Regions from separate parts of the Homo sapiens genome. Here region 2 is linked to region 1. Evidence: fine-mapped expression QTL. A gene starts in region 1. The other region holds a variant in brackets. All regions are shown on one strand. Distances are from middle to middle. Region 1 holds the start of NEB (nebulin). Region 2 has its middle 36 kb from the start of ARL5A.

What was found. PIP is the estimated chance that this variant, and not a neighbour inherited with it, causes the effect.
Region 2: its variant is fine-mapped to the expression of NEB in CD4 T cells (BLUEPRINT, PIP 0.95).

The regions. Positions count from the first base shown.
Region 1 is chr2:151,729,308-151,737,656 of GRCh38, reverse strand. NEB (nebulin) reads left to right here and starts at 3,181. Exons shown (of 182, transcript NM_001164508.2): 1 at 3,181-3,259; 2 at 3,862-3,945; 3 at 4,472-4,536; 4 at 8,001-8,042. The coding sequence starts at 4,501.
Region 2 is chr2:151,787,765-151,796,113 of GRCh38, reverse strand. No RefSeq gene overlaps it. Among named protein-coding and RNA genes, the nearest start is that of ARL5A, 36 kb to the left of the region's middle. The variant G/AG (reference allele first, on the strand shown) is at 4,119.

The DNA of each region.
Region 1 (8,349 bases):
TCCCATCTCCCCTTATCATGTCTTTTTTGGTCTCCAGGCATGACACTTCTATATTTTCATATTTAGGGAAGCCTTATCTGAAGTTCCGATATTGGCACCTAACTGCCCTGCTTTGGTTTGTAGCCAGTTGTACAAGCTTCTAGTCAGATGCCTGCGTACTCATAAATTCTTAGACTAACTATTGTCTGATTTTAGAAGCTTCAAGATATTTGGTATTTCAGTTAAATACAGAATAAAGCGTGAAGCTTCCAATATAATGTAAAAAATGATAATAGTAAAAATAATAATAGCTAACATTTACTGAACACTTACCATGTGCAAGGCATATAATAAGAACCTACCAATAAATCAGGGTGCCAATGTACTGTCGTTCCACAGAAGAGGTCATAGATAGGCCAGGAAAATAAAGCTGTTCTTTCATCTCTAGAGGGCATCATTCCAGATTAGAATCTGCAGAATTTAGTAAGGAGGTGGCAGTGTTTTTCTCTAGTGTGACTAGGAGGTAAATATAAGCTGCTTGCTGGTTCACTCACCCCTGTGTAACCATGGTAGGAATATAACCAGCTCTCCTGTGAGTCTCTTACTTCTGATGGCTTTGCAAATTATTAGGGCAACCTGCAGCAGGCCAGTTTAGCAGGGGCTTTGGGGCTTTCTTTTAGGAGGAATTTATCCCAAGAGATCTAAGCCAGGGTAATTTCATGTGAACTCACTCTTGCCCCACCCCCCACCCTAACTTTTTAGATGCACACTTCATTATGAATGGAGTTTGAGGTTCTGCTCATCTGTAGCACTTCTATTTACTATCATAGTGGTTTCAAAAGTAATGTATAAAGAGTGTCTTAGTCCATTTGGTCTGCTATAACAGAAATAATATAAGCTGGATGGCTTATAAACAGAAATTTACTTCTCATAGTTCTAGAGGCTGGATGTCTAAGATCAGGGTGCTGGCATGGTTGGGTTCTAGTGAGGACTTTCTTTCAGGTTGTGGCTGGCCATCATCCCCCTGTAACTTCACATGGCAGAGAGAGTGCCAGGCAGCTCTCTGGGGCCTCTTTCATAAGTGTACTAATCCCATTCGTGAGGGCTCCACCCTTATGACCCAATCACTTTCCACACATCGGGGGGTAGGACTTCAACATATAAATTTTGGGGGGACACATTCAGCTCAGATAGTAATGATTTTTCAGTCTAATAATCCCTAAGGATATTGAGATGTGTATACATAGGAACCCTCATTCTCTGTTAGTGAAACATAAAATAGTGTAAGGATTTTGACTGGCAACTTGACAATATCTATCAATTTTCAAAATGTGCATATATCTTCTGCCTCAGTATTTCTATTTCTAGAAATTTACCTTACAGATACATTTCATATAAGTATACAAAGGTAATGTACAGGGATGCTTACTGTGTGTTTTGTTTCGCATTGTTTTGCTTTATTTTGTAATAGCAAAAACCTCGAAACAACCTAGATGTCCATTAATAATGATTAAACTATTATACTCTATCCAATCAATAGAATTATTTGTGGAAATTAGAGTAGGATATGTTTATGTGATGTTTCATAAAAATGTCTATTGCATATTAAGTATATCGATTTATGTCAATATCTATATTGAAAATATCTGAAACTTAAAAATGACTAAGAAGGTCAATGCTCATTTTTTACTTTATATAATTTTGTACTCTATGTTTTTAAAGTATGGGCCTGTATTATTTTTTAATTCAACAACACATTTTAAAGCATGTAATGACTAGTAAGTCACAATTCTAGTTTGCAGCTACCAAGTGAGTGATCTCATATTACATAAATATCCTTTGGTCATAAGACCTGTGAGAACATACAAGATGAACAGGTATAATCAGTTAAGATGATAAAATTCTGTTAGATTTTATTTACTACCATGTGAATCATGGAGGGGGAAAAGGTACATGTATTTGAAATATGAGATTACTTTCTCAAACTCCTGGCCTCAGACAATCTGCCCGCCTCGGCCTCCCAAAGTGTTGGGATTACAGGCGTGAGCCACCACGCCCAGCGAGATTACTTTCTAATGTTTAACTTAAAAAAGAAAAAATATTACAATATGTTTAATCTCAAATCCATATCAAGATATAGGTGACTCACAGGGTTTTGCCTGAATACAGGAGCAACCCAGAGAAAGAGCAGTTCTCTGTCACATAAGAGCCTGTGATTTCTGTCGCTGTGTGTAAGGACAGACAGACAGACAGATAGAATTAGATTTTAAATTAGAAAAAATACTTCAGGAGCAAAGAAAGTGCAAGAAAGACATCAGGCAAGTTTTAAGAAAATGGTTAGATAATTTTTATGAAGGAAATGTCTTACGTTCGGATTTGCCAAATAGGGCATTATTTTCTCCTGATAAGTTACTGATTTCCATGTTATCTGCTCTTGCTGTTCAGAAATTGAGCCTGTTTGTGTCCGCATTCACACGTTGCTTCTGGGAGCCAGGAGTCATCTGAGTTAATAGAAAAATCACTAACTCGGTTACATATGAGAGAGGTTCTGTATTCCTAGCAGCTTGCCTTATCTAAGGAGGGAGAAGGTGCTAAATAGGATTTTGGTATACCCTCTTGGTTTAGTAACAGAAAAATGATGGGGTCTAATCTTTCTAATTACACCCTGTGGATATCTTATTTAGTGCCATTGTCAAATATTTTCACCTTTAACTTCACTCATCACATTTTTAAAAATTGCTTTTGTCAACTTGATGTTTACTGGGTCTTATTCCTCAGTTTCTTTCACACTAGCACCAGTAACTTACCTGTAGCTCACCTGGTGAACCTTACCAGAGTGAGTACATTTACCACCATGACTGGACAAATGACATGAAGAAAGCAGTCACGGAAGGGTTAAAGCCTCTCAAAGTCATGCTTATTTTCTACTAAATTCTTTTGCATGAATATGACATTGAATGGGGCCTCAGTAAATGGGAAATTCAACCTAAAATTGAACTGCACAGGCTGGAAGTTAGGTAAAATTTGATTCCATTTGAATTGTTCTAAGCAAGCAATTTGTTACCCTTTATCCTTTAGTGGAATTGATGAACAGGTGGTTTTCAGAAGATCACTTGGTAAATTTAGCTTCTGAAATTTGAGCAACTCAAGATCTGATTGGTTGCTCTTGCCACATGATAATTCGGAGCCCAGGCATCACGCTGGCTTTTGCCTGGGGTTCTCAGGAGGGGAGAGTTGGGAGAGGCTTTGCTGCTGAGGAAATTTATTTGGTAGATTGAAGGTAAGGCCAGTTTATGACTTTTTCTGTAATACTCTTTCAGGAGATGCTCCACAACTTCCCTCGAAGTATTTTTCAAAGGTTTGGGCCATAACTGAGGAAATTAGTGGTAGAAATATGGCTAGGAGAGTTTAACCCCATTGCCCTACTAAGGCCCTACTAATATCTGCTATGTACCGTGTGTGATTAGAGTCAAGTCCTTTGCTAACCAATTTATTGCTTGACTGAATTGGCTCTCTTGTCTAACATTTTTTTGCCTTTGATATTTTTCTCTAAATATATTAGTGTGAAAAAGAAGATACGCTGCTCTACGTTCCTATATTTATCCTGTTCTACTGGGCTTCATTTGCCTGAGGAGTGGCAGTTTCGCTAGCTTAACAAAACCAGCCACTGCAGGGTATTGGTTTACATGGCAAACATCTTTGGATGAAGGGACAGCTGTTCCAACTCATCATCCACTTCATATCAAGAGTCTTACTCTCTGGCGTCAAACTGTAGAGGCCTTGAGAGATCCTTTCGCTGTTTTCTGCATTAGAAGCTTAGGCTAAGGACTGACAATCCTATATGTACCTCAATCAATGCTTTACAACTTTGTTATTTTTCAGGTTTGAACGAGAGCTACAGAAACGAAAGAAAAAGTCTGTATAAGCCAATGGTGTTCGGGAAGAAAATAACCCCATTGCCTTGAGGTTTCTTTTTTTCTTTTAAAATTTATTGACAGATGTATTTTTATGGGTTCCAATTTGAAGCCTAAGATATATTGCAAACAGTGGATCAGGGCAGTATGGAAAACTAAGTCAGCCCTCTTAGAATTTTGGTGCTGGGGGATAAATTTCAGCTTCTTCTGAAACCCAAGCTGACCTTTCACTAAAATTTTTGCTGGAAAATGTCTTTTCTCTAAGTGTTTGGAAGTTTAAATTCTCTGTTCCCTGAGTCCAAACTCTCTCACTTCCTTACCTCAATTTCGTTTTACAATTTTAACTAAACTGATTATGTAGAAGTAGCAATTCCCAACACTGAAGGAATAAAGAGAAAGAAATTTGAAGCTTCTGCTGTTTATACTTGTATTTTAAATGTCTTCTCTCCTTTAGCCTGCAACAATATATGAATTTGTACAATAGTTTAGCTTCAAATTCTATTTTTATAATGTCATAAGATAATTTCTGTGCTGGGAATAGACTCTAATATGTTTTCATTTGTATGGAATATGAAAAGTTTGTAGGTGCCACTACTACTCTGGAAAAATGGCAGATGACGAAGACTATGAGGAGGTGGTGGAGGTAAGATTTAAAAAAAAAACACTGACAGCAAACTATTTTATGTAGTGACAATCAAAGCTGTGTAGGTGAATTAATCATTCGAAAAATACATTGTCTATTATAACTTCACAAAGAGTCATCATTTAAAGCATAAGAAAGGAATATTTTATGTTCAGTTTCACTATAATTATGTGGGATTTAGAATTGACAGGAAATATCACTGTTTCCCACTTTTGCTTTTCTTTAAGCTCTCAAAAAACCAAGTTGGAGTAAAGGCAGGTTTTAATTCGTCTTCTAAAACTGCTTTCTTCCCCACTTCCCAACCCCGATGTTCAAAGGGACAGAGACGAAGAGAAAGTTCTGAAAATGGAACTCTGTCTCTTAGTATCTGTATAGCAATAGAAGAAAAGATCTACTCCTTATTCTTTGCTTCAACTAGCTAATCATCTATAGGGTAACATGGGTTAGATATTCAGAATAATCATATGTATGAAATTATATGCAGATGTGAGACTTTATACATAATACATACACATGTGCACAGACACACACATACAAGCAAATATAAATAAAGGCATGAAGGTCACAGCGATTGTTGGAGCCACACCTTCCTACCAACTTCATTATATTTACCCAAGTCAACAAGACTAGCTTTTGCTTTTGAATTTTGAATAAGAACAAAGACTATAGTGGGTATCTTGAAAATTTTCCTTCCAATTATTAGTGGACATCTAACACATTTTACAAAGCTGTTAATCATTTATTTTATATTTATTTTACATCCTTTTGTTTTTATCATCTTACGGTTTTTCCTCACCGGCTCTTGCCTTTAGCTTCACATTCTAGAAATAAAATCTAAAGGCTTGGAACTATAATGCACATAAATACAGTGCCATGAATCTGAATGTGCTTAATAATTACCAATTAATGATGATGATCTAAACACATGAAAATCTCCAAATGCCTAAGGCACTTGGAGGCAGTTTTGAAAATCTGTGCTTTTTAATAAGACTGAAATTAACTGTAAGAGCTACCCAGAACCAAATTTTAGGTGGCAGTGCCAAAATTTCTCTTTGGAAAATTATTTTAGTGACCAGTCTATATTTAGATGAAGAAAATTTTATTTATTCTACAAATAAAATAGCTTTTATTACTGAAGGATATGAGGGAAAAAATAGAATGAATCTCGTACAATGTAACACTCAGCCTCTCTGGCTTAAATGCTGATACCACATCTTTCATGCTGATATTATCACTAGTGTGCATTTTACTTATGTACCTAAGGGTCAGAAATATCACTGTCAAACACTAATACAATTATAAATTAAATTGTCTTCCCTATGATAATAATGCCAGTAACAGTTTTTACTCTCCAACTTAAATATCCCTTGTCTTTCTTAAAATAATTGTGTACCTTTGCCACTGGAAATTGTCCTTAGTGCTAGACTTGATTGATTCAACTAGATGTCATAAAAAAGGAGGTGGCTATTTTTAGACATCCCATCCCTACCATTTTGTTCCCATTACAGCATCTGTGTCTGACCAGCAGGTGATAAACGAATAGACTGCCTGCCAGAAAGTATTGAACTGAGATCTCTTTGACCTCAAAAAAGATCATGAGCATAAGAGGGTGGTGCATTCGAAAAAATGGCCAGGGAAGATTTTAGAAAACAGAGAGGAACTAGCTTTAAAAATATGCAGAAAACAGAGAAGAACTGGCTTTAAAAATATATCTCCTTGGGATCTTGGACATCTGAAATAAAGTTTTACTGTTCTCTCTACTCTAACTTAAACTTGAAAAGAAAGAGAGAGAAGCAAGGATGCACTATCTAATTAGTGGCACAGCTCTAAAAAAAGAGTGAGATTTGGCATACAAGTTAATGCCAACCATTTAAATAATGTTGCCTCTTTTATAAGCGTATTTCTAAGATGGATTTACCAATGGTGAGAGCCCAGCAAAGGTAAAATTGAATGGTTTCCAAGGAGCTGCTTTTAAACTTGGATGCTGAGAAAATCCAAAATAGTTGTGAATCTTCCATTTTATTTTAATATTTCTTCTGAAGCCACTGATGTTTTGTGTGACTGGAGGAATGACTCTATGTGGCGTCAGCATCAAACAATATTTTCTAGTGTCCAAATGATATTTCTCATGTGCTGAAAAGTCACAACTGTAAAAAAGCAAATCTCTGTCCTGTCAGTGCTTGTGATTTTTGTTGCTATGTGTAACGACATACAGGCAGAATTAGATTTTAAATTAAAACAATAGCTCAAGAGTAAAGAAAGCACAAGAATGAGGAACATTAGGCAAGTTCTAGACGATTGTTAACGCAGGTGAAATAGCACAGGCGGCCTACTGACAATGGTTAAGTAATTTGATGACACTTCACTGAAAAGAATGCAGGCCATTGAGGGAAATTTTGCATCTTAATGTTTTCCCTTCCCTTGAGTGCTGTATGTTTTGGTGTTAAAGATAAGAAAAAGGAAGCATAAAGTGTTTTACATCCTTTTTTTTTTTTTTTTTTTTTCACTAAGAAATGAGCCAAGTGTTTCATCTTTATCCCTTTCCTCATGTGCTTGGCCTAAACGAGCCTCTCCTTCTGTTCACCCTACAGAGCAGGGTGAGGCTAAGGACAGGATTCCTCTCTCCTTACACATCTGAAACCAAGTGTCAACCAGTTCCTTTCTGCATCTATTTATTGCTGGTGATGTCAGAAGTAGAACAAAAGTAGACTTGGTTTCAGATCCAGGCTGCAGATCCATCATGCAGGCCATGATGACCTCAGAGCCACTATGGCAAATTGCAGCCTACCTTTCCCACACTTTGTGATGAAGAATCTTCTCATTTTCCCCTTCATTACTTGGCATTTACCAGTTTTCATATTAGCACCACTCTGTTTAGGACAATCACACTATTGAAAGGGACTCACCCATCACTCCAGAAGAAACTTATTACTTACTAATCAGGAGGGTATAGGAATAATTGAGATGTGGATATACCTTGGGATCTTATTATTTCCATGATGCAATCCATTTAAAAATGTATTCACACTCGAGTTTCTGTTTTAGTTTATTGTTAGTTTGCAAACAGTGAGTTTTATCACAGTTCCTCTCTGCCCAACCCACACACTCAGGATCTTCTTATTGTATTCTCTTCTCAGCAAATTCTATCTTGGGGACCATAAGAAAAAAATTTCCATGTCCCAGTAAAGTAAAATAGCTTCTCTTGATTAAAAAACAGCCTCATACATTTTTCTCAGCCCTCTGCATCTCTTTGTCCATTTGGATGGCATTCACTTTAGCTTTCCTGAAGTATTACAAAGTGAAGATGGGTTCCAAAATATGAACAGGCTCCCTCACCTACCCCTTTCCCACAGACATTCCAAATCAACCGAGCTAGTGCAGTCACCTAAGTGGTTCAGCTGAGGCAGAGGAGAGGTGGTTTCTGCTTTGGTTCTCTTGCCAATGCCTTTGTGCTCTATTTACAGTACTACACAGAAGAAGTGGTTTACGAAGAGGTGCCGGGAGAGGTAAGGCCCAGCCCACAGCTGCATAAACTGCATTCTCATTAAAGCAGGAAGAGCTTTCTCCTTTCTTAGACTCCCAGGGCCACAAAGATGGCAAAAGGGATTATCTGACAGAGGATCACTCACCTACCTGTGCCCAGAAGCTGGTGTGAAAGCACAAACATTACCTGTTTGATGGATTATTTCACCTTTTTTTCCTATTCAAAAAACGCAAGATGGCAGGGGGTGGTTCCCCCTATTTCTTCTGTGTGATATTTTTGTGTAGATGAAGCTAATTAGAATAATGTCAGTGGCTATCACCATTCTCCAA
Region 2 (8,349 bases), 58 kb before region 1:
TCTACCTCTTTTGTTCTCATAGGTAGGTTTTTTTTTTTGACCTATGTGATTGCAGCATACTGCCTCGTTTAATTCTTACGTAACACTTACCTCAATTCTCATTTAATTCTGCCTAACTTCAAAAGAGTTTTTAGGTGACTGTATGTTTTTCTCATTCATTCTTTCAGTAGAAATAGCACTTATTTCCTTAAAAATGGTCTAAAAGCATCATGCAGTGGCAGATATATACAAATTTTATGTATTTGAAATCTGTGTGGGCCTACATCAAGGAATGTAAGTAACATACCAGAGTTTGTTGTCAGCATCTGCAGATACTGAAATAGTAAATGGTATACCAGCTTTTTTGGAAAAACAGCTGTGTCATTTTATTCATCTTTTATGCTTGTTCTTCATTTTTTAATATCTGGAATATCCCCTTTTTGCTAGTAAATAACTTTTGTCCCATGAAATTGATGAGATTTTCACAACATTAGAATAACCTCTAACAGTCCTTTTGAATGTGTTCCTTATGATTGATTACCACCCTTTTGGGATTCCATGAGTTGGGATGCCTAGGTGACCCATTATTTTCATCATTACATACTTTGCATTCTAGCCAGTTATTCTATACCAAAATAGATGTTTACTGAAAAAATCTTTTTGAAACAATTCCAATATATTTAGATCCCCAAATTATATTCTACTGTATTTCCTATATTATTACAAATAACATTGCAATGGCCATCTACTTAGTGTGTTTTTTCATATTTAAAATTATTTCTTCTGGCTGTAATCTCAGGTGAAACTACTGGATTAAATGGTAGGATGGGATTTGAGGGTGCCTATTTCAAATTTTCACTATATGTTAAACAACAAAACCCTTTCCGATTTAATAGAGAGATAAGCATATTGTTATATTTTGCACCTATTTAGTTATTGAGACTATTTTTCTTTGCTGTTTTAATACCCTCTGAATTGTTCTTTTGCTTTATTCATTTATTATAATCTTGGTGTTCTTGTGAATAAATTAAATTCTTAAAACAGTAAATATAAGTATCATGTGCTAACCAATTTCACCACTGGAGCTCTGTTTAAATAGTGAATATATTATCTTTTGTCATGTTTTTGCAGATGTGTGTGCAAAACACATCCTAGTATACTGCTTAAATTTTTATAATTATCTTTTCAGCATATAAAGTGGTGTGTTTTTTGAGACAGAGTTTCACTCTGTCACCCAGGCTGGCGTGCAATGGTGTGATCTTGGTTCACTGCAACCTCCGCCTCCCAAGTTCAAGCAATTCTCCTGCGTCAGCCTCCCGAGTAGCTGGGATTACAGGCATGCATCACCATGCCTGGCTAATTTTTTTGTATTTTTGGTAGAGACAGAGTTTTGCCATCTTGGCCAGGCTGGTCTCGAACTCCTGGTCTAAAGTGATCTGTTCATCTCAGCCTCCCAAAGTGCTGGGATTACGGTTGTGAGTCACTGCACCTGGCCTAAAAAATTACAGCCAGGCTTGGTGACTCACACCTGTAATCCTAGCACTTTCAGAGGCTGAGGTGGGCGGATCACTTGAGGTCAAGAGTTTGAGACCAGCCTGTCCAATATGGTGAAACCCCCTCTCTACTAAAAATACAAAAAATTAGCTGGGTATGGTGGTGCACGCCTGTAATTCTAGCTACTTGGGAGGCTGAGGCATAAGAATCGCTTGAGCCTGGGAGGCAGAGGTTGCAGTGAGCCAAGATCACACCACTGCACTCCAGCCTGGATGATAGAGTGAGACTCTGTCTCAAAAAAAAAAAAAAAAAAAAAAAATCAGCCTTGTGCAGTGACTCATACCTGTAATCCCAGCACTTTGGGAGGCCAAGGCGGGTGGATCACCTGAGGTCAGGAGTTCAAGACCAGCCTGGGCAACGTGGTGAAACCTCGTCTCTACTAAAAATACAAAAATTAGCTGGGCACGGTGGCACGTGCCTGTAATCCCAGCTGCTCAGGAGGCCGAAGCAGGAGAACCGCTTGAGTCCAGGAGGTGGAGGTTGCAGTGAGCCAAGATTGTGCCATTGCACTCCAGCCTGAGCAACAGAGCGAGACTCCATCTCAAAAAAATAAATAAATAAAATTTTTAAAAAATTACATAAGATATACATGACTCTTTTGAGTGAAAATCAGAAAAGAGACATAAGTCAAATTGAGATAACCGTTACCAACACTTTGGGACATATAGCAGGGTTTCAGTTAGCAGTGGATGACATACACGGTGGTGGTCCTGTAAGATTGTAATGGAGCTTAAAAATTCCTATCACTTAGTGATGTTGTAACTGTTGTAATATTGTAGCACGGTTTGTTTTTAAAATAAATTTAGCCTAAGTGTAGGGTGTTCATAAAGTCTACAGTACTGTACAGTAACGTCCTAGGCCTTTACTTTCACTCACCACTGACTCACCCAGAGCAACTTCCAGTCCTGCAAACTGCAGTCACATTAAGTGCCTTATACAGGTGTACCATTTTTTTTATCTTTTAAAGAAATTTTGTATAAATTTATGGGGTACAAGTACAATTTTGTTACATCTATAGGTTGCATAGTGGTGAAGTCAGAGCTTTTAGTGTATCCATCACCCAAGTAACATATGTTGTACCTACGTTATGTTTAGATACACAAATACATAACCGTTGTGTTAGAATTGCCTACAGTGTTCAGTACAGTAACGGGCTGTACAGGTTTGTAGCCTAGGAACAATAGGCTATACCATGTAGCTATACCATCCAGGTTTGCATACATAGACTCTATGATCACCCAGTGATGAAATCACTTGTAATGCATTTCTTAGAACAAATCCCCATCCTTATGCAACAAATGAGTATACATTTCTTAGTTTGTTTTGAATACAGAATTCCAAAAACTTCTTTATTTTTCCATGATATACTGTAAACATCATTTACATATAAAACATTTTAATGGATATATTGTGTTTGCTGTTTGGACATGACATAATTTATTTAACCAGTCTAATGTTGATGTACATTGTTGTTCCTTATTTCTTACCATTGCAGTAATTTTACTGTAGTTAACATTTGGATTTATTTTTCATAGAATGAATTCTCACAAGTCCAATCGCTGTGTCAAAGCATATGGCCTTTTAAAAGGCTTTGGTAGCCTGTTGCCTAATTGTCTTCCGAAAAGATTCCCCACATCCTGGTCAATTCTTCAGCATATACACGGCCATCTCTATATTAAGACACTTTATATTAAGATTTGTAAACCTGTTGACTACTGTCACAGGCCACCACCACTCTGGGCATCTTCAGGTCATGCTACATGTTCACCAGTCCTTCCAGCAGTGGGCAGTGCAAAGCTTCCCTCCGCCCACAAGGTTTCTGTGATCTTTAGCCTTTATTGTGCAGTTTACTTGTTAACCGGCTTATAATGTATTCAGCCTATGCTAATCATTGACTCCTTTTGGGAAGGGTAGAAGGTAAAAGATGTATACAATCTCTCAGCTGACCTTTTTTTAATGTTGGGGAAGAATAATGAACAACTTTTATTATCTACCATAGACGGCCAGTCTTCTGCTTCTAGGATGCTCTCCCACCAATGTGTCCATCTATGCTGTCAGCCCTAAATGCCAGTCCTGTGTAGGAAGTCCTGTGTTCATTCAGAAAAGTCACCCAGTGTCCATCCATTTATGTCCATCATATTAAAAACAGTTGAGTTATATGATAAAACATGCTACCATTAAATATTTTAACAGATTTAAATAATATGAGGAAATTATTAATGGTTGTGACATGTTAAACAGGATAAACAATTTTTTTATAATATAAACTTTTACATCTATCATCTGAATTATGCGAGAACAAAAAACATAGAAAAAAGATAGGAAAGTACCTTGGGAAGCTGAGGCCGGAGGACTGCTTGAGCCCAGGAACTCAAGATCAGCCTGGGCAACATGGCGAAACCCTGTCTCTACAAAATGTTTTTTAAATCTAGCCAGACATGGTGACAGGTACCTTATAGTCCCAGCTGCTCAGGAGGCTAAGGTGAGAGCATCACTTGAGCCCAGGAGTTCAAGGCTGCGGCGAGCTGTGTTTGCACTCCAGCCTAGGTGTCAGAGTGAGACTATGTCTTTAAAAAAAAAAAAAA[G/AG]AAGAAAGAAATGTATTATAACATTAGGAGTTGTAGGCGGCAACATTACAACCAGTATTTTTCTGATTACGATTTTGTATGTTACAGATATTCTATATTGAGCGCATTATACCAATAATCAGAAAACATTGCTGAATCATTTTGTCTTTAAAGAATCATCTAATAGGGATGGGAAGGAATACAAAAGTTGTATTAAGTAAATGGGATGAAGCTCTCAGTTCAGAGATCAAGATGATTGGTAAGTGGAATACTATGCAGCCATAAAAAGGAACAAAATAATATCCTTTGCAATGTGGCTGGAGGTTGTTATCCTAAGCGAATTAACATAGAAACAGAAAACCAAATACCACATGTTCTGACTTATAAGTGGGAGCTAAACATTGGGTACTCATGAACATAAAGATGGCAGCAATATTGGGGACTATTAGAGGGGTAAGGGAAAGGGGGCCAAAGGTTGAAAAGCTTTATTGTACTATGCTCAGTGCCTCGGTGATGGGATCATTTATGCCCCATACCTCAGCTTCATGCAATACACTCAGGTAACAACCTGCACATAAATCCCCTGAAATTAAAATAAAAGTTGAAATTAAAAAACAACAACAACAACAACAACAAAAGGTGATTGGTAAAAATTCACTGATGCAATGCCATTTGCAACCTTCAGTGCAAGTCTGATTTTGACAGAGTTCTTACCAATTATTGCAGATGTAAAGAGATTACCTTTTTAGCTTATGCCTTGATATTATGTGTTTTGCTTTAGATGGTTTGGTGGTTGGTTGGTTTGTGGGATAGGTTCTTTTTGGCTGTGTAGTAATGACATCAAATGCCCGCAGAGAATTAGTTGTAAATGGTAATGGTCTTTTTAAATGGTTTAACTGCTGTACTCAAAATACTCTTCAACCTGATCTGGTGTCCTAAAAGTTTAGTACTTCTAATAAGATCTAACATGTGGTTGCATTTGTTATAAATGCCAAAGTTATATTTAAAAACACCCAAAGGGGCTGGGTGTGGTGGCTCACACCTGTAATGTCAGCACTTTGGGAGGCCCAGGCAGGAGGAGAACCTGAGCCCAAGAGTTTGAGACCAGCCTGGGCAACATAGTGAGACCCGCATCTCTACAAAAAACAAACAAAAAAAATAGGCATGGTGGCATGTGCCTGTTGTCTCAGCTACTTGGGAGGCTGAGGTGGGAAGATCACTTGATCTTGGGAGGTTGAGGCTACAGTGAGCCATGATTGCAACATGCAACACTGCATTCCAGCCCAGGGGACCATGAGACTATCTCAAACAAACAAACAAACAGACAAACAAAAACCCACTCCAAATGTAAAGTGAATAGTTCACATCAGGTGTACTGGAGGCTATATGAAGAGAGACAGTGATAGCAAGAGTCAACAGTCCTTATAGACTAAAGTGAGGTGGCAGTAGTAGTAGGCATTGGGGAACCACTGAAGGTTTGCTTGTTTTATTTTGTTTTAAGACAGGATCTTGCTGTGTTTCCCAGGCTGGAGTGCAGTAGCATGATCATGGCTCTTTGCATCCTTGACCTTCTGGGCTCAAGTGATCATCACACCTCAGCCTCCCAAGTAGCTGGGACTACAGGCACATACCACCACGCCTGGCTAATTTTTTTTTTTTTTTCTTAGAGATGTGGTCTTGCTATGTTGCCCAAGATGGTCTCAAACTCTTAGACTCAAATGATCCTCTCACCTGGGCCTCCGAAAGTGCTGGGATTACAGGCATGAGTCACTGCACCTGGCCTGGGAATAACAGTTTAAGGCCAGCCTCTTAAAATGAAAGTTATTGTGGCAACTTCTAAAAGATGGGTTGAAAAGAGAGGAAACTGGGGATAACATCATAAATAGATTATTATATTATCCCTGGTGAAAGAAAATGAAGGCCTGAAACAAGGCAGAGAAGGCAAAGATAAACTTGATATCTAATGGAATATGGGTAAGTAACCATATAAGTTATCAGCCAAAATGGGACATGCTTAAGAGTCAAAGAAGGCACTATTAATAATTACTCCAGCATATCAAAATACCACATTATACCCCATAAATACATACAATTTGTCAACTAAAAATAATTTTTTTTTTAATTCATGAAAAAGGGGGATAAGAAGAAGAAAAACATTCCTGCAGGACTGGTCTGGGCAGAAGAGGAGTTGTGGTAACTAGATATGAGGAGAAAGAGAGGAAGGAGGCACAGAGCAGTTGGAGCTTGCTGCCTGGAAGAATGACGGTATGATAAAGAGATGGGATGATGTGAAATAATTCACATTGTTAATTATGAAGTGTGTTTTGAATCACCTCAGTGTTACCCAGAAACGACACTCGGTTATCATGTTCAGATAGGGGACAATGTGTTTTTGCAGTGATAGCAGTGGAGGGGAAGGGTTGTCAGCTTAAGGGGCAGTTGGTCATTCTGTCATCAAATGAATTAGTAGCAAGACTTGACCAGCATTTGTGAATAATGAAGCTTTTCTTGCTGACAAACTGCTGATGTTTACATTGGGCCATTATAATAGGCAATTTAATGTCATTAATGACCTTTATATAAAAAATAACTCGTGAATGAATGAATGTAGTGAACATTAAGTACTGCTAATAGAAAAAAAAAGGGCAAGGCTTCTTTGCCAACTTGGCAGAATGATCATCAGTATTTCTGCCTGTTCTTTGCCTCAGGTACACACATATTTATTTATTTATTTATTTATTTATTTATTTATTTATTTATTTATTTTAGTTTTAGAGACAAGGTCTGACTGTGTTGCCCAGGCTGGACTTCAACTCCTCAGTACAAGTGATCCTCCTGCCTGAGCCTCCTGAATAGCTGGGACTACAGGCCTGCACCACCATACCCTGCTCTAGTTACACAAATCTTAAAATGATGCTGTTATGTTAATTCAATTAAGAAAGTAAACTAGTTCTATGATCCAAGCACATAGTTGTGACTCAATTCATGTTGTTGTTTTTAATCCTGAAATGATATTGTAAAATAAGAGCTTTGCCTTAAAGTTTTTGTTACTCAGTTTTTACATTTGAGGTAAGAAGGCAAGTGGCAGGGAAGAATGATTAGCAATAAAGCTTTTTAAAAGTTCTTCAGAAACAGTAGACAATTGGTTGAGTCAAATTGACCTATAATGACTATTCCCAGGAATTTCCTAGTTCTTATTCCTTTGGAAGGAATTGTAACTACCTTATGCCATGTAAAGAATGCTGCTATTTTACGTTTATTACAAAGATGTGCCTACAGATAAGAATCAAACTGGAGAACTTTAAAAATGTTTTAACTTTACCTGATCTTTTTCTTAGAAAGCTAACTGTAAGTAGGATATGGTGCCAAGAAAAATCATCAGCCTGATACTGTGAAAAAAAGACACCCTATTAATATGCCCACAACATTATCAGCAAGCTAAGTAACATCCCTGGACCTTAGTTTCATTATATTTTTAACTAAGTATGTATCAGAGCCCTTAACACAAGCCCAATATATTTTGGAACCTCAATAAATAGTGGTTTTGCTGATTGTCTTTTTAACAATTTCTAAAATATTGAATACTGGTTATTATAATTAAATGTATTCTAAACATCTATTCTTTCTGTCTCATGCCTTGATCTAGCCTGTTCCTTCCACCTAGAATGCCTTTTCCTTCCTTTTCTCACATAGCAATCTTTGACATATCCTTGAAGACTGAGCTCTCCCATCAGCCTGGGAGGCCTGGCCTGATCTGGAAGACGGTTCAGCACGTCTTTCTCTGTTGCCATAGTGCGGGATTTTTGTCTATTTTCAGCAGGTCGTTCCAGACTGCAAGCCTCTGGAGGGCAGTGACTCGATCCCATTCAGCTCCATATCCCCACTACCAGCATGGCATGCATTGGGGGTGTCCATACATATACAGAACAGAAACTTTCAGGGTTTGGCCAATTTTACTTTTCCTTAGCATGTATTATCATAAAGTGATGTAAGTACTATATGCCTGGATTTGTCTTATTACTACATCTATTTGTTAGTAAAAGGAGGTTACATGTTGCCTTAGTGGTTTCTTTGCACTTAAATATTTTTTAAATTATTTGGTTCTTGGCTGGGAACTTAGTCCAATATGTCTGCTAAAGTATTTCCCATTTCTTGCCACCTCTACAATAGTGCCATAATTTCCAAGTTGATTTGACATGTATCATCTTTATTCTCACAATCCTGAGAGGTATATAGAGCAAGAATTAAGTTC